Regions from separate parts of the Homo sapiens genome. Here regions 2, 3 and 4 are each linked to region 1. The links come from fine-mapping of genetic effects on gene expression. A gene starts in region 1. Each other region holds a variant in brackets. All regions are shown on one strand. Distances are between the middles of the regions. Region 1 holds the start of CLEC4F (C-type lectin domain family 4 member F). Region 2 overlaps FIGLA (folliculogenesis specific bHLH transcription factor). Region 3 has its middle 5.6 kb from the start of CD207. Region 4 holds the start of LINC01143 (long intergenic non-protein coding RNA 1143).

What was found. PIP is the estimated chance that this variant, and not a neighbour inherited with it, causes the effect.
Region 2: its variant is fine-mapped to the expression of CLEC4F in whole blood (TOPMed, PIP 0.92).
Region 3: its variant is fine-mapped to the expression of CLEC4F in monocytes after Pam3CSK4 (Quach 2016, PIP 0.95).
Region 4: its variant is fine-mapped to the expression of CLEC4F in tibial nerve (GTEx, PIP above 0.99). The same link has a PIP of 0.9 or more in aorta, breast, cerebellar hemisphere, cerebellum, gastroesophageal junction and left ventricle.

The regions. Positions count from the first base shown.
Region 1 is chr2:70,817,534-70,823,196 of GRCh38, forward strand. It overlaps CLEC4F (C-type lectin domain family 4 member F), which reads right to left and starts at 3,066. Exons shown (of 7, transcript NM_173535.3): 1 at 2,930-3,066; 2 at 2,242-2,358; 3 at 1,822-1,911. The coding sequence starts at 2,990.
Region 2 is chr2:70,781,097-70,786,759 of GRCh38, forward strand. It overlaps FIGLA (folliculogenesis specific bHLH transcription factor), which reads right to left. Exons shown (of 5, transcript NM_001004311.3): 3 at 4,319-4,543. Among named protein-coding and RNA genes, the nearest start is that of FIGLA, 6.7 kb to the right of the region's middle. The variant T/C (reference allele first, on the strand shown) is at 2,363.
Region 3 is chr2:70,838,628-70,844,290 of GRCh38, forward strand. No RefSeq gene overlaps it. Among named protein-coding and RNA genes, the nearest start is that of CD207, 5.6 kb to the left of the region's middle. The variant C/CACAA (reference allele first, on the strand shown) is at 2,413.
Region 4 is chr2:70,885,655-70,891,317 of GRCh38, forward strand. It overlaps LINC01143 (long intergenic non-protein coding RNA 1143), which reads left to right and starts at 2,217. Exons shown (of 4, transcript NR_126384.1): 1 at 2,217-2,526; 2 at 2,632-2,694; 3 at 3,822-3,934; 4 at 4,167-4,330. RefSeq lists an enhancer at 2,074-2,724. The variant T/G (reference allele first, on the strand shown) is at 2,715.

The sequences.
Region 1 (5,663 bases):
ATGAATAAAGCCTGTGGTTAGTCCTACATTATATTTGTACACCAAGCATAGAGCCTCTTGATTCACCATTGTTACTTGATAAAAACCACCACAAACATAAGTTTTATGATGGCAAATTCCATGGAGAAGAAAACACAAAGGAAAGAAACAGAAACAAAACAAAATAGGTGTGCTGGGAGGAAGTACCCTGTTCAATCAACAGGGCTATGATAGAGGCATGCCATGCCCTCCAGGTAACTAACACTGGACCTCAGCTGAGATGGCCTTTTAAAGAGCCAGCACCCCCAGTGTTACATAGGGCAAGGGTCCCTACAGAACAGTTTGAGGATACAGGAAACCTGAGTAAAAGGCCTTGCGCTGGGGTCGTTGAAGGAGACCCCACAGCCCCTTTAATCTGCAAGGTCTTTCCCACCAACCTCACATGCATCTACCTCTGGTCCTGCTAGCATCCTTTGTTCACCTCATGAACTAGGACCTAATCTCACACATCCATGATCCCCTTCTGATTCCAGTCTCCCCTCAGGAATAGGGAGAAAAACCCAAGATGGCAGGGACCCTTTCTGGAGCATCCATGTACTATTTCTCATGCACTGCCTATGTAGATGTGTGAGACCTCAGTTACTGTGCTAAGGTAAGAGAGGGGACCTTTCAAGGTACTGGGAGTTCAGTCAAAGATTCTGCTTTGTAAAGATAGACAAACAAATCAATGCGACAGAATGGAGAATACGGAAGTAGACCCCCACACATATGGACAATCGAATTTCAACAAAGGTGCAAAGGCAATTCACGGAGAAAGATAACTTTTTCAACAAATGGTGCTGGAACAATCAATTTCACACCATTATACAATAATTAACTCAAATGAGGCAGAGACCTAAATGTAAAACTAAAAACCGGGCTGGGCATGGTGGCTCACGCCTGTAATCCCAGCACTTTGGGAGGCTGAGGTGGGCAGATCACGAGGTCAGGGGATCGAGACCATCCTGGCTAACACGGTGAAACTCCGTCTCTACTAAAAATACAAAAAATTAGCCAGGCGTGGTGGCGGGCGCCTGTAGTCCTAGCTACTCCAGAGGCTGAGGCAGGAGAATGGCATGAACCTGGGAGGCAGAGCTTGCAGTGAGCCGAGATCACGCCACTGCACTCCAGCCTGGGTGACAGAGCGAGACTCCGTCAAAAAACAAAAACAAAAACTAAAACTAAAAACTGTACAATTTCCAGAAACAAAGGAGAACATCTTTGTAGCCTTGGATTAGGCAGATTTCTCACATACGAGATCATGAGAATAATCCATAACAGAAATAAAATGATAAATTAGACTATCAAAATTAAAATCTTGTTAGGAGAATGACAAGACAAGTCACAGACTGAGAGAAAAATATTTGCAAATCACATGACTAGCAAAGAACAAAGAGTACATACTCTATGATCTCTTATCTATAAAACTCTAGAAAAAGCAAACTAATCTATAGTTACAGCAAGTAGATCTGTGGCTGCCCAGGGATGAGGAGAGGAAGGGAGAGGAAGGAATTACAAAGAGCCACAAGGAAACTTTGGGGTGAGGAGGATGACTATGTGATGATGATTGTGGTGATGGTTTCAGGGGCACACACATATGTCAAAACTTAACAGATTGTATGCTTTAAATATATACACCATTAGACCTCAATAAAACTGTGTTTTTAAAAAATTATCTCTTTCTGTGAGGATGGTGGAGCCCATTCAGTGGTCAGAGGGTACCAGGAGAGAAGCTCATCCTAGGGTCTGAGCATCTGAAGGCCCCAGTTCCCTCTGCACCCCACCCCCACTGTGGCTACTCACTGTTGGGTTCAAAAGGTAAATGCCCAGTAATGTTGTCTCCCAGAATTACGGCTTGCACAGGCTTCGGAACAGGTCTTGTCTGCTGTTGAACTGAGACATTCCATTTTTCCAGGTCAGCAAATCCCCAGCCCTGAGCCTGGGAGGATACGCTGTCCCACACAGAGGTAGAGTTCCAGAACCGGGGAGATAGCAGCAAAGACCCTCCCAGGGTTTCCCTCATGAACCTCAGTTCTTGGGAGGCTCCCCCTTGGACAGTGGCCTTTATCTGTTCCCAGGGAAGCTGTGGCTTGGGCCTGGAGCTGGAGGTGGAATGATCTTTCTGGGAGCAGAGAGGCCCAGAGAGTGTGCATCTGGGGCCCCTGGGGACTTTGTGCTGAAAGGAGAGAAAGTTAGTGAGATTTGGGTCACCTGGGGGCTTACCCACTACAAAGAGAGTCACAAGAGAGAAGACCAAGGTCACAGCCATAAATGCCGGGGTAGCCTGAACGAGCCTCGGTATCTTGGGGGCTGCAGGAGCCATTGCCACAGAGTCCACCTCTGCAGGGGAGAAGGCAGTGTCCAAGGTGAGAGGGTGCTGTGCAAGGTAAGAGGGTGCTGTGCAGGCTGAGACACAGCCTCTCTGATTCTGTTTCCTGGGTTGTCTAATGGGGATGATAACTCCTGCCATGCTTATCATGCAGGTGGTTATGGAGAAGGAAGACAAAACACTTTGGGCTGTTCACCAGAGCTAGATGTGGATATGGTAGCAACACAGAGCTGAGGAGCTCTGAGACCGAGACCACCGATCTCCAAATCTCAAGGAGGCTTTGGTGGTGCACAGGGCACAGAACCTGGCACAGAGCACAGAGCAACAAAAGTGTAGTTTGAATGAAAGAAGAAAGGAAGGGAGGGAGGCCTCACAGGACCAGCTCAGTGTGCAGAGCCGGGATTCCAAGCCAGGACCATCTGAATTCAAAGTTCATCCCCTTTCTCTTGCCAGGTCTGCATCCCCAAGGACAAGGGTCTGGGGAGAGCAATAAGACAGCAATAAGCTGCCTTATGGCAGAGGGCCAAAGGACAGGCAGGCTACTCCCTCACTGGGCAAGAGCTGGGGCCCCAGTTTTCTCACCTTGGGGGTGCAGGGAGACACACTGGTTATCTGTGCAGAAGCGGACTGCCTCACCGTCCATCTCTGCTTCCTTGATCCTCCAGCACTGCTCCCAGCCACTGGCTCCTGGAAGGGCCGTCCCGTGGACCAATGGCAGTGGAAGCAAAGCTGAGACACCCACACTTATATGCTCCTGACCACCCTCCCAGCTCTTCCTCCCTCCCTGCCTGACTCTGCAGAAACCCGCCCCAGTGGGCCCCTCCCCTAGAGGCTCCCAGATACCCATCTGCCCTATTTTCTTCCTCTTCCCATTAGCACCTTCCCGTCAGTTCTCAGCCCCATCATCCCAGCCTCTGCCGCATCCAGCATAACCCCAAACACACCTCTTCTTCTCTGGGGGCTGGGACTGGCACCTAGGAAGGGGGTCTCAGCTTTGCACAGAAAACATCCTTATGACTATGGCTGACCTTTAATTCTAGCCTCAGAACCTCTTAAGTAAAAGGAGTCAGGTAAAAGAGGGGCCAGGTCAGTGCGGCCGATATTTGCAGGTCAAAGGAGGAAGCGGGGTGACCAGCCACTTGGGGACTCACAACTGAATTATAGTATACAGGAGGATGTGCGGAGGTTATATAAAAATACTACATGATTTTGTACAAGGGACTTGAGCATCTGTGGACTTTGGTACCCATGGGAGTCCTGAAACAAATCCCCTGCAGATACCAAGGGACAACTCTGTAAAAAATATATCTGGTCTTCATCTCAGTTCCTGACACAGAACTCCTAAAACGCTTAGAGTTTCCTGGGTGACAGGAGTGTTTTTTGTTATTCATAATAAGCCCCTTAGGACTACACTTGGGTTTATGCTAATGAGGTGACACAGGGTGGACCCTTAGATAATTTCAGGCTGGAGGCTGGTCCCAGAAAGACCAAACATGGGATTAGACTTTGGAAGACTGGGACTTTCAGCCACCCACTCCCATTCCCTACTCCCAGACCTCCAGGTATGGGAGATGGCCTGGGGTCTGGGCTATAACGACTCTTAAAAAATGAGATTCAAGGAGCTTAGGGATTGGTGATCCACATGCCAGGAGGGTGTCATGCCCTGACTCCACAGAGACAGAGTCTCCTGCACTTGGGACCCCACTGGGCCTTGCCCTGTGTACCTCTTCATCAGGCTGTTTTTGTCCTTTACAATAAAAGAATAGGAAGTACAGTGTTTTTCTGAGTTCTGTGAATTGTTCTAGTGAATTATGAAAACTGAGAGGTTGTTGCAGAAACCCCCTAATTTTTTGTTTGAGACAGGGTCTCCCTCTGTCACTCAGGCTGGAGTGCAGTGGTACGATCATAAGTCAATGCAGCCTTGAACTCCTGGACACAAGTGATCCTCAGTTCTCAGCCCCAACATCCCAGCCTCTGTCACATCCAGCATAACCCCAGCATAACTGGGACTACAGGTGTGTGCCAACATACCTGGCTAATTTTTTATTTTTATTTTTTTGTAGAGATGGGATCTCTTTTTATACCCCAGGCTGGTCTGGAACTCCTGGCTTCAAGTGATCCTCCCACCTCAGCCTCCCAAAGTGCTGGGACTACAGGCATGAGCCACCTTGCCTAGCCAGAACCCCCAAATTTGTAGTTGACCAGGCAGAAGTGGGGTCACTACCTCACTTGTAGCTAGCATCTGAAGGGGGGCAGTCTTGTGGGACTGAGGCCTTACCCTGTGAGATCTGTGCTAACTCTGGAAGTTAGTGTTAGAATCTGTTTGAATTGTTGGATGCCCAGCGGGTGTCAGAGAATCGGCTGGTGTCAGGAAAAAGCACACATTTGGTGTCAGAAGTGGTGTCAGAAAATACCAAGCAGGCCCCAACTTTAGCTGATTGGATCCATGCCTCCTGAGGTGACCAGGTTCTCAAGACTAACTCCAAAGAATCTGATGGAGCAGGCTGGGGCCAATGTGTGGCTTTCAATGAGCCCTATCCCTTCCAGGAGGAACAGATACTGCTTCAGGGGTTCCTGCTGCTGGGTGGGCCTAGCATTAGAAGAGAAGGCATGAGGCATCCCAGTGGACAGTGCCATGGAGCTGTGCAAACGTGATGTCCCTGTCCCTGCCACAGGGGTTACCAGCTGAACAGAACCAATATTCCCATGGCTGGTCAAGGAACCCCTCTAAAAGCCAGTGCTGGGGTTACCAGCAGATTCCTGTTCTTTGGTTCCTTCTTGTCTCCATTACTTCAAACGGTCACAATCTTTTTGAAATAAATCACATTTTCTTTCACTTTGGAAAGTCTAATTACATATTACACCATCATAGCAACTCTTAAACAAACTCACAACCTTGCAAATGGCTTGTTCCATCCATGTTGTGTTGTTTCTTTGCTACTTTCACCCTCTGTTCCTATGTCCCATTCTCATGTCTTTTGCACAGATCCTGGGGTCAGCCTCTTATAGGTCCCCAGCTGCCAACTAACAACACTGCAGACCAACCACAAAGGTGGAGAAGCCACACGGAACGTGCCTCCTCTGAGGCCGGGCCAGGAGAACAGCTTTGGCCCAGGAGGAGCCTGTGCCATGCGTGGCTGATGTCAACCCGGCAAGCAAGTCGCCCCGTGGGTAGGGGATCTGCAGACAGGAAGGGAGCGGTTGCCCACACCCAGTTCATGATGGTGGGGGTGTGTGTGTTTGTGTGTGTGTGTGTGTGTGTTGAACTGTGCAGTGTTAGGGGCCCAATGTGTAGAGTGCAGAGCCACCATTTGCT
Region 2 (5,663 bases), 36 kb before region 1:
AGCGAGAGCAGGGAGAGGAGGAATCCACATATGAGGGGACCGGCGTGGAACGTCAGAGCCAAGAAGGAGGTTTTTGCGGAGGTACAGCTTGCCATGAGTGTTAAAGTTCAAGTGGGTGAGGAGAACAGCCATGTGGTGAGGGGATGGCAACAGAGATGGGAGATGGGTTATACACAGGGGCATCCTCAGATAAGTGGCTGATTCCAGGGCTGGGATAGAAAAGTACAAGATGAGCTTGGAACACCTTCTGCCAAAAAGGAAATGATCAAATAATCGTGATGACATATCAAACAGAAAGGCTGCCAGCTTAAGGAGCTTTCGCTGGCCACAGTGGGGACAATTGGAGCAATAAAATAATAAAAAATGATAGTATATAATAATCCACTGAATTAAACAGAAAACCATGAGCTCATACTAATATAAAAATGTCTGTATAAAAACAACCAAAATGTTCTAAAATATTTACGTGAACAGTTAAACTGTGGTACATCCACACCACAGATGACTACTCAGCAAAAAGCAGAGGAACAGACCATTTATACAATGTGGATGATCTCAAGGGCATCATCTGAGTGGAAAAAGACCATCTGTAAAAGTCACATAATGTATGGTCCCATTTTTATAGCATTCTCAAGATAAATTATAGAGGTGGAGAACAGATTAGTGATGTCCAGGAGTTTGGAAGAATGGAGGGTTGGGAGCAGAGTGTAGGTGTGACCATAAAGGGGCAGCGTGAAGATCTTTGTGGTGATGGAACAGTTCTGCATCTGGATTGCAATGGTGATTCCATGAATCTACACGTGTGATAAAACAACATACAACTATGCATACGTGGTACCAATGTCAGTTTCCCAGTTTTGATATTATACTATAGTTATGGAAGATGCAACCATTGCGGAAAACTGGGCTACGGATGCACAGCACTTTTCTGTACTATTTTTGCAACTTCCTGTGAATCTATAATTACTTCCAAATTACAGATTTGATAAATAAATATAGAATGTTTGATGAGTAATGAGATCTTTACATAGTTTCAAAGCACCTCCTCACAAAATACATATTAATTACAAAAGAAAAAGATTAAAGTGAAAGGCTTGGCAGTCACCACCTTAAGCAAGTGATCAAAGTGAATATCCTTAGAAATAGAATAAATCAAAATCTGCCCCATGTAATAGGATGCAATGAGTAGAAAACAGCATCACTTTTGTTATTCCTGCCGACGATGCATATCTGAATCTAATCGAAAGGAAACAGACAAATGCTGATCAAGACACGCTCTATAAAACAACTGGCCTGTAATCTCCAAACGTGTCATGGTTATAAGTCACAGAAGCACCAAGAAACTCTCCTTCCAGACTGAAGGAGCCATGGCAACTAAATGTAATTCATGATTCTCAGCTGGGTCTTTTTGCTAGAAGAGACATTATTGAGACTACTGGTGAAACTTGAATGGGACCTGAGGATTGTATGGCGGTAACGCCGCAACATTAATCCCCAGACTTAGTGGTTGCATTGTGGCTATGCAGGGGAATGTCCTGTTTGTAAGAAATGTACACTGAAGCCTTAGGGGTGATGGGACATCAGGTTGACCCTCAAATGTGCCAGGAAAAAAGTTCTTTGTACTGCACCTGCAACCTTTCTATAAGTTGACTATTGTTTCAGACTAATTTTTTTAATTTTAAAAATTAATGGCTGGGCATGGTGGCTCATGCCTGTAATCCCAGCATTCTGGGAGGCTGAGGTGGGCAGATCACGAAGTCAGGAATTTGAGTCCAGCCTGGCCAACATGGTGAAACCCCATCTCTACTAAAAATACAAAAATTAGCTGGGTGTGGTGGTGTGAGCCAGCTACTCGGGAGGCTGAGGCAGGAGAGTTACTTGAACCCGGGAGGCGGAGGTTGCAGTGAGTCGAGATGGTGCCACTGCACTCCAGCCTGGCAACAGAGCGAGACTCTGTCTCAAAAAAAAAAAAAAAAAAATGATTTGAATGTGAAAGGATGAAAAATCCTTGACAAAACTGATGAAATACTAGAATGCTTCTGCAAAAAAATGGCACTCTTTACAATCAGGCCTCAGAAGTCATACTTGACAGAAGTGACATGCACTGTCTATAAAAATCTCAAACGTCGAGTCTTCCTTGGTTCATTCTACAAATTAGCACTCTTCCAATTAACAACAAACTTGGTTGGCTAAAAAGACTAAATATTAAGTGTTTTACTCCCTTTTTTGAAGGAAATTCCAGTCAGAACATCTCTGGCTTTTACTAGGAAACGTTAGTCCCCACTCTAAATTAGTGTACTATACGTGGCCTATGCCCAGGTTCAATTATCCTTGGAAAACAAGGACCTCCCATCAAATGTAC[T/C]TGCTACTAGTACTGCCAAGCACAGGCCTGCTCTGCTACTGCAGAGGCTCCTGTCCCAGCCCAGGTCCAACAGGACTGGCAGGAAGGTGTAGCCAGGTGGCTCACCATGACAGTGACATGATGACACCTACCTGACAAGGATCAATGAGGATTAAGTGCAAGTAAGATTTTCACCTTGATACTAGCATTTGCAGAAGCATTACTCTTCTTAGATAGTCAGGCTCAAGGTCTAGCTCAGGTCATTTTTTTTTTTTTTTTGAGATGGTGTCTCACTCTGTCACCCAGGCTGGAATGCAGTGGCATAATCTCAGCTCACTGCAACCTCCCCTCCCAGGTTCAAGCGATTCTCCTGCCTCAGCCTCTTGAGTGAGTAACTGGGACTACAGGTGCCCGCCACCACGCCTGATTTTTAGTAGCAATGGCGTTTCACCATGTTGGCCAGGCTGGTCTCGAACTCCTGACCTCAGGTGATCCGCCCACCTCGGCCTCCCAAAGTGCTGGGATGACAATTGTGAGCCACTGCGCCTGGCCCCACTCTTTTGTTGTTGTTGCTTTTAGTCATTCCATGTCAGCTCATGTAGTAGCAACAGGAATTCTGTCTCCTATGGGTTGACTGGCCAGCGAAATCTTATATCTCAAGTGGTCAGAATATGAAAATCTACACTGAGCATATGCACAAATGAATCCTAGAACACAATTAATCTAATCAGAAATGGAAGCCAAGGCCGCCCACCACCTCTCTCCCCACCCCTGCCCTGCCCCCACCAGCCAGCAGGAAGCCTGTAGGACCTCAAATCAGAGCACAACATTGGTGAGAGCCAAGTGAGAAAACTCAAAACACTGGCTACAGAGCTAGAATACCTGTGGCTCATTATTGCTCACTAATCAATGTTGATTGCTCATGAGTCAAGAGAAGTTGGTATCTATCCAAGTGACGTGACAGGTATTATGCCAGATACTTTGCTGACATGATATCATTTGGAGTTAGTTATCTTATATACAAGGTAGGTACAATTATTATACCCATTGCTCAGATGGAGAAACTGAGGATTAGAGGCATTTAGTAGCTCATGCAAGATTATACAGCTAGCAAGTGGTAAAACCAGGGTTTAAACCTCAGTAGTCTGTTCCCAGAGCCTACTCTCAACTGCTCGCCTCAACTGCCTCCCTCCAACCACCATCTGTGACTCCACAGCCCCCACTGTCCCTTATATCATACCATGCAACATGTTTGTTACAGCATGCTTACTTCACATTCCTATACACCTTTCTTATTTCAATAGTAATTGTGTTGCAGAGTAGGATAGAGCAGGGGCCTCATTTATGAATACCAGTTCACAGCAAGGGCAAAAAGTCCACTTCTGGACTTGGAGAAGCATGCTGCCACTTCCAGCTGTCTCTTTAGTTGACAAAGTAATAACAGACAATAAACTCCTTTGTTATTTCATTTAAAATGTTGTCTTACAACCAGCACCACCCCCCACCACAAAAAAAAAAAAAAAGTATCACCAAACATGCATCTTTATGTATGGCAAGCTACTTACTTCTTTTTCTGGAGACCATAGAGTCCAGAAAACCTTTTGATGGGTTAAATAGGATCATTTAAAAGATAAACTTAGGTCTGTATTGGGTGGTTCTGGGGTTAAATAGGATCATTTAAAAGATAAACTTAGGTCTGTATTGGGTGGTTCTGGGGTTAAATAGTTTCATTTAAAAGATAAGCTTAGGTCTGTATTGGGTGGTTCTGGAGGAGTTTCCCCTTCCCTGGAGCCGCTTACCAGTTAATTTAGAAACAAAATAATCTCCCAAACTAGTAAACCCCACTGCCCCACCCAAAGGCTTTCATTAAATTATCTTGTTTTAATCATGTTTTAGCATGGAAAAATGACTCATATCTCAAAGTATACATTTTAAGGTTCTGATATCTGTATGGGTATTTAAGAAGGAATATTTTACCAGACTTCTGGTTGGGGAGATAATTTCAGTCGTAGACATCACACTGTGGCGACAAGCGTGTGCTGGCTCACCACTGCCACCATCTGCCCAAGGCCCTTCCTCTTCATTCTTCAAGCCGAAAGCACAGCTGATATGTTGGGTGATGTTTCTTGACAGCTGTCTTGCCGAGGATGTATGTGATTCAGAACTGTTGTTACTATAGCTCTGCTCATCTGGGTCTTGTTTCTGGAAACCATATTTAGTTGTCAAACAGTATAATATGACAGAAAGATTTTGATGACTTAAACTAATATATTTCAAAGTTTTAACTGATGAGGTTTCATTTAAATGATAAGGGCAATGCTTAAGTCATTATGGAGAGAAAAGCATTGTTCAATTGACCGTATTTTGTTCTCCTATCATCTTAAAATGTTATGCAATAGGTAACTGCATTAAAAATATTATGGCATGGAACAGATGGTATGTTTTACAATGAACAAAGCACTTCTGTTACACAATTGACATGCAAGAGAAAACTAAGGTAGCCACCTACACATGTCCAAACACTGTGACCATACCAAAACCCAACCATCCAGTTTGACCAACAGGACAATTCACTCCTGCCATCGCAGAATGTAGCTTCCTAGCAGTCACCTGGCTAGGACTAATGGAGAAGAAAAAAATATTCAAAGGTACTATCATACACCTGGAGATTTCTGCCCCAAATTTCTAGGATAATTGTTTCTTTTCTCTCTAGTATCTCTCCTTCTGTTCCTAAACATGATCAAATTTCTACATAGGAAAGACCTTCACTTGATCTAACAACTTTTCTGCCTTTTTTTTTTTTTTTGGCAGGGGGTGCAGGGAGTGGGGTGGGGGGTGGTTCTTCTTTCCACTCTCGGACTTCTAGGTTTTCTTTTTTTTGGGGGGGGACAGAGTCTCGCTCTGTTGCCAGGCTGGAGTGCAGTGGCGCCATCTCAGCTCACTGCAAGCTCCGCCTCCCAGGTTCACGCCATCCTCCTGCCTCAGCCTCCTGAGTAGCTGGGACTACCGGCGCCTGCCACCACGCCCGGCTAATTTTTTTGTATTTTTAGTAGAGATGGGGTTTCACCATGTTAGCCAGGATGGTCTCGATCTCCTGACCTCATGATCTGCCTGCCTCAGCCTCCCAAAGTGCTGGGATTATAGGCGTGAGCCACCGCGCCTGGCAGACTTCTAGGTTAAATGGACTTGAAGTTTGCCACTTTCCTCTGAATCTGCTTGGATTCCAGATATTTACCAATCATGCACCCTCAATCTCCTCCAAGTTGATGCCCAGCCCAATTCTCTTTCACCTTTCAAGTGCTAGACATGGTGCTTCCCCCAG
Region 3 (5,663 bases), 21 kb after region 1:
CTTGGCCACACTTTCCAGTCAGGAAGGTGGGCAGTTCTCCCGGGCACTCAGACAATGCCCTGCTCTTCCAAACAGAAGAGGAACTCTGGCCAGACCTAGTGACCAAAAAAATCACCGCTGTGATGAGAACGGGAAGTCTGTGCTCATTTTTTTAGTTTCTCCTCTTCCTGTGTTCCTGGGGTTCTAATATTTTCTCTGGATAAGGATGGAGGAAGAAAACAGCTTGGTCACTTTTTCCCTTTCTCTGGTTGAGACTATGGTTGGGCCCAGCCTTATGCTTGGAGGAGAACCATGGGTTTAATCAACAAGACTGGAACAGAGACCTGGGTTGTATGAAATGCTCCAGCAGTGCCAAGAGTCATCTCCAGGGAGGAGTCACCCAAGTCCCTCAGTCAAGTCATGGAGGAAAGTAGAGTGAACACCAAATTGCGGAGTGGGGACAGGGAAGGAGAAGAGAGGGAGGAGGGGAGAATGACTCTGAAATGAGAGGAGATTACAGCTGGTCACACCTGGCTTACATAGGGACTCCTGTGATGTGATGCGGGATTTGGCCCACAGCCTCCAAAAAATCAAGGGATTCCATGCCACCCTCCGGACATGCGCCCTGGGCACAGGGGATAGGGCAGAGAAACCAAGGAGCATAGGTGGCACCATTCACTCCTCTAGTCCTGCTGTGCACTAGGTACCAGGACACAGCAAGGAAAAAGACAACCACAGACCCTGCCCTCAGGAATGGTTTTCCTATTGTTGAAAAAATATGACATCCTTAATGCTGGGGAGAAGGGAAGGCTCTCCCGAGACTAAAAATGACTGACGACACTATAGGGGCCTTCCCAGGTCTCCTTGGACCCTGATAACGGGTTCCTCTTTTATGACATTATATGAGGACAGGTCTCTTTGGAACAGTGACAATAAGCCAGACCCTACTGATCAGGGTATTTCACCCAGTGCCATCATAAATAGTGTGATATGTAAATAGGCTGGCAACCTAGCCACATGGAAGAGCTGCTGTGTACCCGGCAGAGGAGGCTGCCCCAGACTACGTCATAAGTCAAAGAACTCATGCCTATAGCCTCAGTGGGAAGGGCAAATCTATGTCAGGAAAGTAATGAAAGGCTTTTGGGAAAAAAAATGTGCATAGTTTCTTTTTAAATCTTTTATTTATTATATAATTAATGATAATTAATTATAGAAAAAAATCCAAGTAAGAAAAAAACCCACCATAGGCTGGGTGCAGTGGCTCATGTCTGTAATCCCAGCACTTTGGGAGGCCAAGGTGGGTGGATCACCTGGGGTCAGGAGGTTGAGACCAGCCTGCCCAACATAAGTGAAACTCGTCTCTACTAAAAATACAAAAATCAGCCAGGCATGGTGGTGGGTGCCTGTAGTCCCAGCTACTCGGGCGGCTGAGGCGGGAGAATCACTTGAACCTGGAAGGTGGAGATTGCAGTGAGCTGAGATTGTGCCACCGCACTCCAGCCTGGGTGATAGAGTGAGACTCTGTTTCAAAACAAAACAAAACACAACAAAACCATCGTAGAGAAAACAAATGTTGTACCCATAGTTCAGTCTTCCTAACCACCCACGTGTATATGTATACACATCTATATCTATAGCCATAGCTGTGTCTAATCATAACTATGCATATATTATATACATATTCACAACACAATTCCTGCTTATTTTCCCTAGCATCCTTCCCCACCTCTCCTGCCTTTCTTTTTTGTTTTTTTGTTTTGTTTTCTTTTGTTTGAGATAGAGTCTCACTCTGTTGCCCAGGCCGGAGTGCAGTGGCGTGATCTCGGCTCACTACAACCTCCGCCTCCAGGGTTCAAGCAATTCTCCTGCCTCACCCTCCTGAGTAGCTGGGACTACAGGCGTCTGCCACCACATCCGGCTAATTTTTTGTATTTTTAGTAGAGACGGGGTTTCACCGTGTTAACCAGGATGGTCTCAATCTCCTGACCTTGTGATCCACCTGCCTTGGCCTCCCAAAGTGCTGGGATTACAGGCGTGAGCCACTGCGCCCAACCTCTCCTGCATTTCTGATACCAAAAATCCCCCTCCATTGGGAAATTTTTTCAGTTTGTGATTCAAATGGGGCTGCTGATCCTAGATACCCGCAGGTGTAGGAGTGACAACTTGCAATGATGGGTGCCCAGGGTTTGGGTAGGAAGGTAGCTCTCCTCTCTCCCTAAACTGAGGGACCTAAAGATATGACTATAGGGCAGCTAGTAACCAGTTCCTCTGTCATGTGGAAGACCCCAGTAGAATAAGACCAGCACAGAGACAGAAGCTGTAACAAAAAATGAAGAGACAGAAAGTGAGTCCTGGTGCCTTTGAGTGCTGGATCCTGTTGAACTTGAGTTCCATTCCCCACAGACACTGTGTTTCTTGGTTTGGTTATGTGAA[C/CACAA]ACAAAAATGAAAATCTCTTATTTTCATTTGAATTTAATTGGATGAGTTTCTGTTTCTTGCAACCAAAGAGTCCTGTCCAATGCGTTATGTAAGCATATACATTTTTTTTTACAAAACTAGACTTATACCCTATAGTGTGTAAGTTTTTTTTGTGTAATAATATATTATGGATAACCTTAAAATCAAACTTACATCTGCATAATAACTTTTATTTTTATTTCATGCTCTATTGTAACTTCATTTTCACTTTTTATATTTGATACATTTGGATTTCATGATTTTCCATTTTTTTCTTATCTCTTATGGTTTTGTTCAAGTATTCCATGATTTTAGAAAGGAATCTAACTTATCCATTTCTAAATGGGTAGCCTGCTGTCCAGATACCATTTTTTAAAACCATGCATAATTTTATCTCTGATTATGAAGTACCATCTTCATCATGTGTTTCATAATATGTTTGAGTTTGTTTCATATCTTTAAAGGTCTGTTTCTGGACTTTCTGTTGTGTTCCATTTGTCTTTCTATTGATATAACAAAACTCTACAATATTAATTAGTATAGCTTTATAATAAAGGCCCTATCTCCAGACACAGTCATATTGAGGATTAGGGATTCAACATGTAAATGAACAGAAAACACAATTCAATCCATAACAGAGCTCATAGAACAGACTAGCAGAAAAATATAACCCGTAATAAGGATAAAAACCAATCTACTGAAACGAACCCAGAAATGATACAGATGTTAGAATTTCCAGACAAGGACATTACAATAGACATTATAACTGTGTTTCTTGTGTTCAAACAGTTAAATAGAGACATGAAACATTTAATAGATACAAATTGAACTTATAATGACTGAAAAAACTACAATGCCTGGTATGAAAAATACACTGAAAGGGATTAATGGCAGGTTATAAATTGTAGAAGAAAAGATCAATGAAGTTGAAGATATGCCAATAGAAACTATGCAAAATGAAGCTCAGAGAGAAAAAATAACAGAACATCAGGAAGTCTGAGACAACTTCATGCAATTTAATATACGTGGATTTGAAGTCCTCAAAGCGGGTGGAGAGGGACAGAAAACATATTCAAAGAAACAATGGTCAAAATGTTTCCAAGTTTAAGAGCTATTTATTTATATAATAACATGGATGGGTCCATTCCAAGATGGCCAAATAGGAACAGCTCCGGTCTGCAGCTCCCAGCGTGATCGACATAGAAGAAGGGTGATTTCCGCATTTTCAACTGAGGTACCTGGTTCATCTCATTGGGACTGGTTGGACAGTGGGTGCAGCCCACAGAGGGCGAGCCAAAGCAGGGTGGAGTGTCACTTCACCCAGGAAGCACAGGGGTTGGGGGATTTCCCTTTCCTAGCCAAGGGAAGCCATGACAGACGGTACCTGGAAAATCGGTACACTCCTGCCCAAATACTGCTTTTCCTACGGTCTTAGCAACCAGCAGACCAGGAGGTTCTCTCCTGTGCCTGGCTCAGAGGGCCCCACACCCACGGAGCCTTGCTCACTGCTAGCACAGCAGTCTGAGATCGACCTGCGAGGCTGCAGCCTGGCTGGGGGAGGGGCATACACCATTGCTGAGGCTTGAGTAGGTAAACAAAATGGTCAGGAAGCTCAAACTGGGCACAGCCCACCACAGCTCAGCAAGACCTACTGCCTCTACAGGCTCCACCTCTGTGGGCAGGGCATAGCTAAACAAAAGGCAGCAGACAACTTCCGCAGACTTAAACATCCCTATCTAACAGCTCTGAAGAGAGCAGTGGTTCTCCCAGCACAGCGCTTGAGCTCTGAGAACAGACAGACTGCCTCCTCAAGTGAGTCCCTGACCCCCGTGTAGCCTAACTGGGAGACACCTCCCAGTAGGGGCAGACAGACACCTCATATAGACGGGTGACCCTCTGGGATGAAGCTTTCAGAGGAAGGATTAGGCAGCAATATTTGCTGTTCTGCAGCCTCTGCTGGTGATACCCAGACAAACAGGGTCTGGAGTGGACCTCCAGCAAACTCCAGCAGACCTGCACTGACTGTTAGGAGGAAAACTAACAAACAGAAAGGAATAGCATCAACATCAACATCAACAAAAAGGACATCCACACCAAAACCAAGCCAACATCAAAGACCAAAGGTAGATAAAACCACGAAGATGGGGAGAAACCAGAGCAGAAAAGCTGAAAATTCTAAAGAACAGAGCACCTCTTCTCCTCCAAAGGATCGCAGCTCCTCGCCAGCAACAGAACAAAACTGGGTGGAAAATGACTTTGACGAGTTGACAGAAGTAGGCTTCAGAAGGTCGATAATAACAAACTTCTCTGAGTTAAAGGAGCATGAGCTAACCCATTGCAAGGAAGCTAGAAACCTTGAAAAAAGGTTAGACGAATGGCTAACTAGAATAAACAGTGTAGAGAAGACCTTAAATGACCTGATGGAGCTGAAAACCATGGCACGAGAACTTCGTAACACATGCACAAACTTCAATAGCTGATTCGATCAAGTGGAAGAAAGGATATCCGTGATTGAAGATCAAATTAATGAAATAAAGCGAGAAGACAAGATTAGAGAAAAAAAGAGTAAAAAGAAACAAACAAAGCCTACAAGAAATATGGGACTATGTGAAAAGACCAAATCTACGTTTGATTGGTGTACCTGAAAGTGATGGGGAGAATGGAACCAAGTTGGAAAACACTCTTCAGGATATTATCCAGGAGAACTTCCCCAACCTAGCAAGGCAGACCAACATTCAAATTCAGGAAATACAGAGAACACCACAAAGATACTCCTCAAGAAGAGCAACGCCAAGACACATAATTGTCAGATTCACCAAAGTTTAAATGAAGGAAAAAATGTTAAGGCCAGCCAGAGAGAAAAGTCGAGTTACCGAGAAAGGGAAGCCCATCAGACTAACAGCGGATCTCTCAGCAGAAACCCTACAAGCCAGAAGAGAGTGGGGGCCAATATTCAACATTCTTAAAGAAAAGAATTTTTAACCCAGAATTTCATATCCAGCCAAACTAAGCTTCATAAGTGAAGGAGAAATAAAATCCTTTACAGACAAGCAAATGCTGAGAGATTTTGTCACCACCAGGCCTGCCTTACAAGAGCTCCTGAAGGAAGCACTAAACATGGAGAGGAACAACTGGTACCAGCCACTGCAAAAACATGCCAAATTGTAAAGACCATTGATGCTATGAAGAAACTGCATCAATTAATGGGCAAAATAACCAGCTAACATCATAA
Region 4 (5,663 bases), 68 kb after region 1:
GAGGGGAGCTGCCGAAACAATCCCCAAACTTCTCACTTCACACTTCTGAGGAATGAGATGGGGTAGAAGTAGGGACAAGCATGAAGGGAGGTGTCATGTTTTATCTTTATCTTTTGGCACTGTTTGAACTTTTATTATATAAAATACAACCACATAAACAAATATGTAATTTTTTAATACAGACAAAAAAATGATGGAACATCTATATAATGTTACCAAGACAGCTGCTAGGAATGAGATAGAGCTACTTCCATTAACATGTAAGAAAACTATGACCTATTTTTTTAAGGCAATTTGCAGAGTGGCAGGGAATATAAATCATTGTTGCAAAAAACATCTAAATAGTTCACATATGCAACGTAGTAACTATAAGCCATGCTACTTCTGCACAGAGGATTAAGGAAGGACTTGTAGACACTTGTCTGATTATTTTATGAGTTTGTGTTCACTTATAATCTTTAAATTAATCTTATGTGAATATATTCTTATTAAAAAATCAAATAATATATGTATTGCTTTTATGATTTAAAATACATATTACTGTGGTTTAGAGAAGAAATTGTTTCTTAAAGGACAATTCCTATTTCTTTCTTCAGCCTCAAGAGTCAGAAAGCAAGACAATTAGTATTTTTAAATAAGGAAATGTAAACTAGTTTTCAGTAAAACATAATTTACAACAATAATGATTATGTAATCATGCCTCTATTAATACAGCAACCGTTTAAAATAATGCAAATGCACAATAACCAGGCTGTCTGTTTCCAATTTCCTTGGACTGGATGGCGAGAATCCCACTTTCCTGGACTTTTCCACCCACATTTATGATCCCTCGCAGCGTATAACCACTACGTACCTCTCCAAACCCAACAAACTTTGCAGCCTGCGCAGACAAAGGTTTCTATGTTTCTCTCTCCATTTCTACTTGGCAAACCCCTGCCTGGGGCTGTACTCGGGAGTCACCTTCACTTCCTTGCTAAGTCAGGTGAAGCCTTACCTGACTTTCTCCAGGCTGGGGAAAGAACCCCCACACCCCTCACCCACTCCCCGGCTCCCATTGCCTCTTCTTTCCTCTCCCTACCGTGCTGCCCACTTTGCGCGGTAATTTTTGCTCCAAGGGCCTGCCTCCCAGAGGCTTGGGGTGCAGGGAAAGTGCTCTAAGGGTGGGACTGATTTAGTCTGGACATTCCTGACCGGTAGCACCACGCCCATAATGACCCGAAAATAAATGCCTGCGTAAATTGCTTTGGGAAGCGGTTGGGCAATTTATTAAGAGTAGTGAAAATGTCCCCTTCCTGCTGAAACAGTAAGAATCTTGAAGAAATAATCCTCCCCAAAGGAGAAAACTATATACACGAAGATTTTAGGTTGTGTATTATTTTCATACAGAAAAACTGGACACGGAAGAATATCAAGTAATTGAACGGTTAAGTAAATTACACAGTAACATAATAGAGCATTACTCGGCCATTGAAAAGTATACTTATGAGGATCATAGCACATAGCAAATACTGAAGTGTGGCCTCAAGTAGAAAAGACTGAATACAAAACTACATGTTCACCAGGACTAACATTATGCAAAATAAAGATGCACATTTAAAAAAAAAAAAAAAAAAGACTGAGTCTTTTAGGGGTAGCACGGGGATATTTTTCCTGCTTTCAATTCTATTATTGCTGTTCTAGCCATGCGAACAGTGCACAGAGGTTGGAAGTGGCGTCAAGAGGAGTCTTACCATTGTGTATATGACTGTAAAACTGAGAAAAAGAAGGTAATATCAGCCTGGGGAATGCATTTCTAATGGCGGGACTTCCTGCACCTTGACCTGCCAGTCGGGGTTGTGGCCCGGCAGTGGCATTCCCAGGGGGTCTCAGAACAAAACGACGGCCACAGAGTCCACCTGGACAAAAGGGCAGGGAAGGGGCCCCTCGCCCTTGACCCTTGGGCTCTGCTCCGGCCACCCTGAGCCGAAGGCTGTTTGGGTGAATGCGTGGGGTTTCTCCGGCGATCGATCCCTTTGGACTGGCTTCCCCACTAGCAACCTGCGCGTCCCCACCAGAACCAGCCGGCTGGCCGAGCGAAAGCCCGGTTTCGGGAGACCTTGCGGGGAGAGCAGCTGGCCCTCGCCCACCGGGCCGCGCTTTGTCTAGGGCGCGAGTCCGCCCGTTTCCGGCCCCGCCCCTCGCCCTGGTCCCAGTCCGCCCCTCCCCCTACCCGGCTTCCGCGTCTCCGCTCCCGCGCTGCCGGCTTCCGCGGCTTCCCCCACTTCTCAGCCTGCTTCTCTCTCCCCTCTCCTTCCTTTCCTGTCCTTTCACACTCGCGCCCCAGCCCCCGTCACCATCTACCCCAAGGACTTGCAAACTTCGCCCCTGAGGAGCGGACTCTTCGGTTCTCCGTGGAAAATCAACCAGACCCAAAACAGAGGTCCCGGGTTTGGGGATACCACGCCGCGCGCCTGAGCATCCGGGCTCCATTTCTCCAGGCGACATCTGCGGGAAGGGAGACCTAAAGGCCAAGGCTGGGGACGAGAGGCAGGTGCCTGGAGTAGTGGACGGTGGAAATGGCGACGGCGGCCTGCACCCAGCGATCCCGAAAGTGCCCATGTATCCGTCCATCTGGGTTTTTTTTTTTCTTAGATCATCCACCAAGGCCGGGGTTTCCGAGTGAGGCGCCCACTTCGCATCCCACAGTACCGCCAGGTGTGTTTCCCATGAGCTCT[T/G]TAAGAGAGAACCCAAGAGCTCTTTAAGAGAGAACCCAAATAATGTGTGAATACCTTCTCCAATAACTTCAAGTCAGAGGCTCAGACACACACACACACACACACACACACACCCCTAAAACATATTTATTTCGTGGAAGAGCGTGTATCCCTCGGCTGTCCTTCCAGCTCTCCCTTGGTGCGTGTGCAGGACGCACAGAAGGGTGGAGTGTGGGTTGCGATTATTTTTACACAGAAGGTGTCACACTCTGGGATCTGTTCCGCAGGGAGGCCACAGGTGCCAGGAGACGCGGGAGAGACTGGCTCCTGCCAAGAACATTTCTTTGCATTGTTCAGTGCGGTTTTTTATTTTTATTTTTGACTGTTTGTTTGCCTAAGAGATGACTTCCCTTGCCAGAAAAAAAAAAGTGTTGTAAAAATAAAAGGAAACGGGATTACGATGTAAAAGACGAATAGATAAACCCGGTTCCGCAGATCTGCGGCGCGCGCGCCTGGCGACCTCGGATACATTCATTGAAGTTGCCGCGCACTCGTACCCGGGTTCACCTCGCCCCTCGCTCATTCCTCCCGACCAAGGCCCATGGTCAGAGGTGTCCTCGCCCCGCGGCCGTCAGAGGGCGCGGCCTACACTCGAATGCCGGCCGAGCCCTCCACGCGCTCGGAACTTGGGCTTCCCGGTGCAGCCTCCCCGCGATCGCAATGCCCGCTGCCTTTCCCGAGCCCAGTCCGGAACCCGCCTCTCTCGGGGACCTTGACCTCGCGCGGACCTCGTCGCCTTGCTTAGCTCTCCCTGACCTGCTTTTGAACCCGCTAATCCCGTCCCGAACTCTCGCCCCGCGGCAATCCCTCGCCCCGGCCCTGGCGCGCTAATTCCCGCTGACCCCGCCGCCCCGCCGCCTCTCTCCGCTCGCGCGGCTGTGACCAGGATAAGGGCTTCCCGCCTCTGAGTGCAGGTGTGATCTGGAGCTCAGGCAACTACTGCCCCCGCATTGTCCCCAGCCCGCGCTCGCACCCCCAGGACCCAAGCAAAGCGTCTCTTGCCTCAAACATTCTGCCCTTCTCTTGCTTCCTCTTGTTTCCCTAGCATAATTCATGTCTTTCTTTAAGAAACCCATCGGACCCACAAAGATCAAAATCTTCGGTAACACACCAAACTGGCGACGCTGTGGGGAAGCAAGCACTCTCCCAAGTGGCTGGCGCGCAGTGAGGGCGCAGGAAAGGTAAGCAGGAGACCCGCCGCTAGGAGCCAGAGCCAGGCCGGCGAGGCGGGCAGGCAGGAAGAACCGCGGACAGGGCGACTTGATCTCATTTTTAAAACCGGAGAGTGAGATGGGACGAGAGCTTGAGCTTCTAGGGATGGGGCTGAGATTCTGGAGAGACACCTGGTAGTCATTTCTTAATCTTTTGTGCTGCTTAGAATTTTTTCTTAGATGCATGTTTTCCTTTTAAAAGAAAAAGAAAAAAAAGAAAAGGCAGAGCGGGGTGGCTCACACCTGTAATCCCAACAGTTTAGGAGACCAAGGAGGGAGAAGCCCTAGCGGCCAGGAGTTCCAGATCAGCCTGGGCAACATAACGAGACCCTCGTCTCTGCAAAAAAATAAAAAATAAAAAATTAGGCGAGTGTGGTGGTGCCTGCCTGTTGTCCTAGCTACTCAGGAGGTTGAGGCAGGAGGATAGCTTGTGCTTAGGAGTAGAAGGTTGTAGTGAGCCGTGATCGTGTCACTGCAACCAGCATGGGCGACAGAGTGAGACCTTGTCTCTTAAAAAAAAAATAGTAAAAGTCATTATTTTAAAAGTTGATGAAATTAGTTCACACTACACACATTTACAAACACAGGTCACACACACACACAAACACCTCCAAGGCAAGGGTCTGCACATTTGTTTGGGGTTGTTTTGTTTTGTTTTGTAAGCAAACTGAACCCAACACAAAGCACTGTACTCCCCTTCTTGGTGTTTATTACAGGACCATGGAGGCTTAGTAAAAAGCATTTATTTAAGGGGAGTTATTTTCAGAGGCTGTTTTCTAGCCAGGAAAAAAAAAAATCGGATACTTAGACTTATCCCCTGGTATGTGCAACATGTAAACAACCAGGTAGCATGCTTCTCCCACCCCCAAAGATCAAACTCCAGGGTTCCAGCCTTGGCCCTGTATCAGTCTGACTGCCCCTGGAAGGTTGGCCATCTCCAGTGATATAGGCTACATGACCGACTATTCGAGTCTGTTTGGCTCACAGCTGTCCCCTAGTGCCTGGCATATTTTAGGAACTCAATAAACATTTGTTAGATGACAAATATTTCAAAGAATGTGCAACAGCTCCTGGAGAACTGTTTCCAGTAGATATAAATTCCTAGCAGCATCTTGGGGTAAGAGGACGGGCCCCCGAGGCTGCCACCTCTAGAGGGCCTTGGATAGTGGCCAGTGCCTTCCCACACAGGCCCAACAGTCACCCAAAACAGGCTGTCATTCAGCTCCTCACCCTTGCATTTTGAAAGTCCTCTCCCAGGGTCAAGAGATAGAGAATTCCTCTAGCCTGGTCCCACCCAGGCCAGTGGCTCCTAGAGACTCAGTCCCTAGGTAACCCCTCCTATTCACCATGGACAATAGGCCACTCAGCAGACAGGCCTTGGATGCTTGTTGGGACCCACCTGAGCCCGAGAGCAGAGCTTCTGGCTCACATGGTGAAGGGGAAACCAGAGAGAGGGTGACCTAGGAAGAGGTGCCAGAGATGCCTGGCTCCTGATTGCCAAGGTCAGTCTGGAACCCGCTTGCAGGTGACACAGATCACTGATCGCAAATGATTATTGCTTGAGGCAACAGGGCCCTAAACCTGAGGGTTTCCTAGCACTGGGGACATGGGAGACAGGTGGTTAGTGACCTTGAATGTACAGTGTTCTGGCTTGCACAGAAGGCATGGCAAAGACAAAAAGGACAAAAAGATGAAAAGG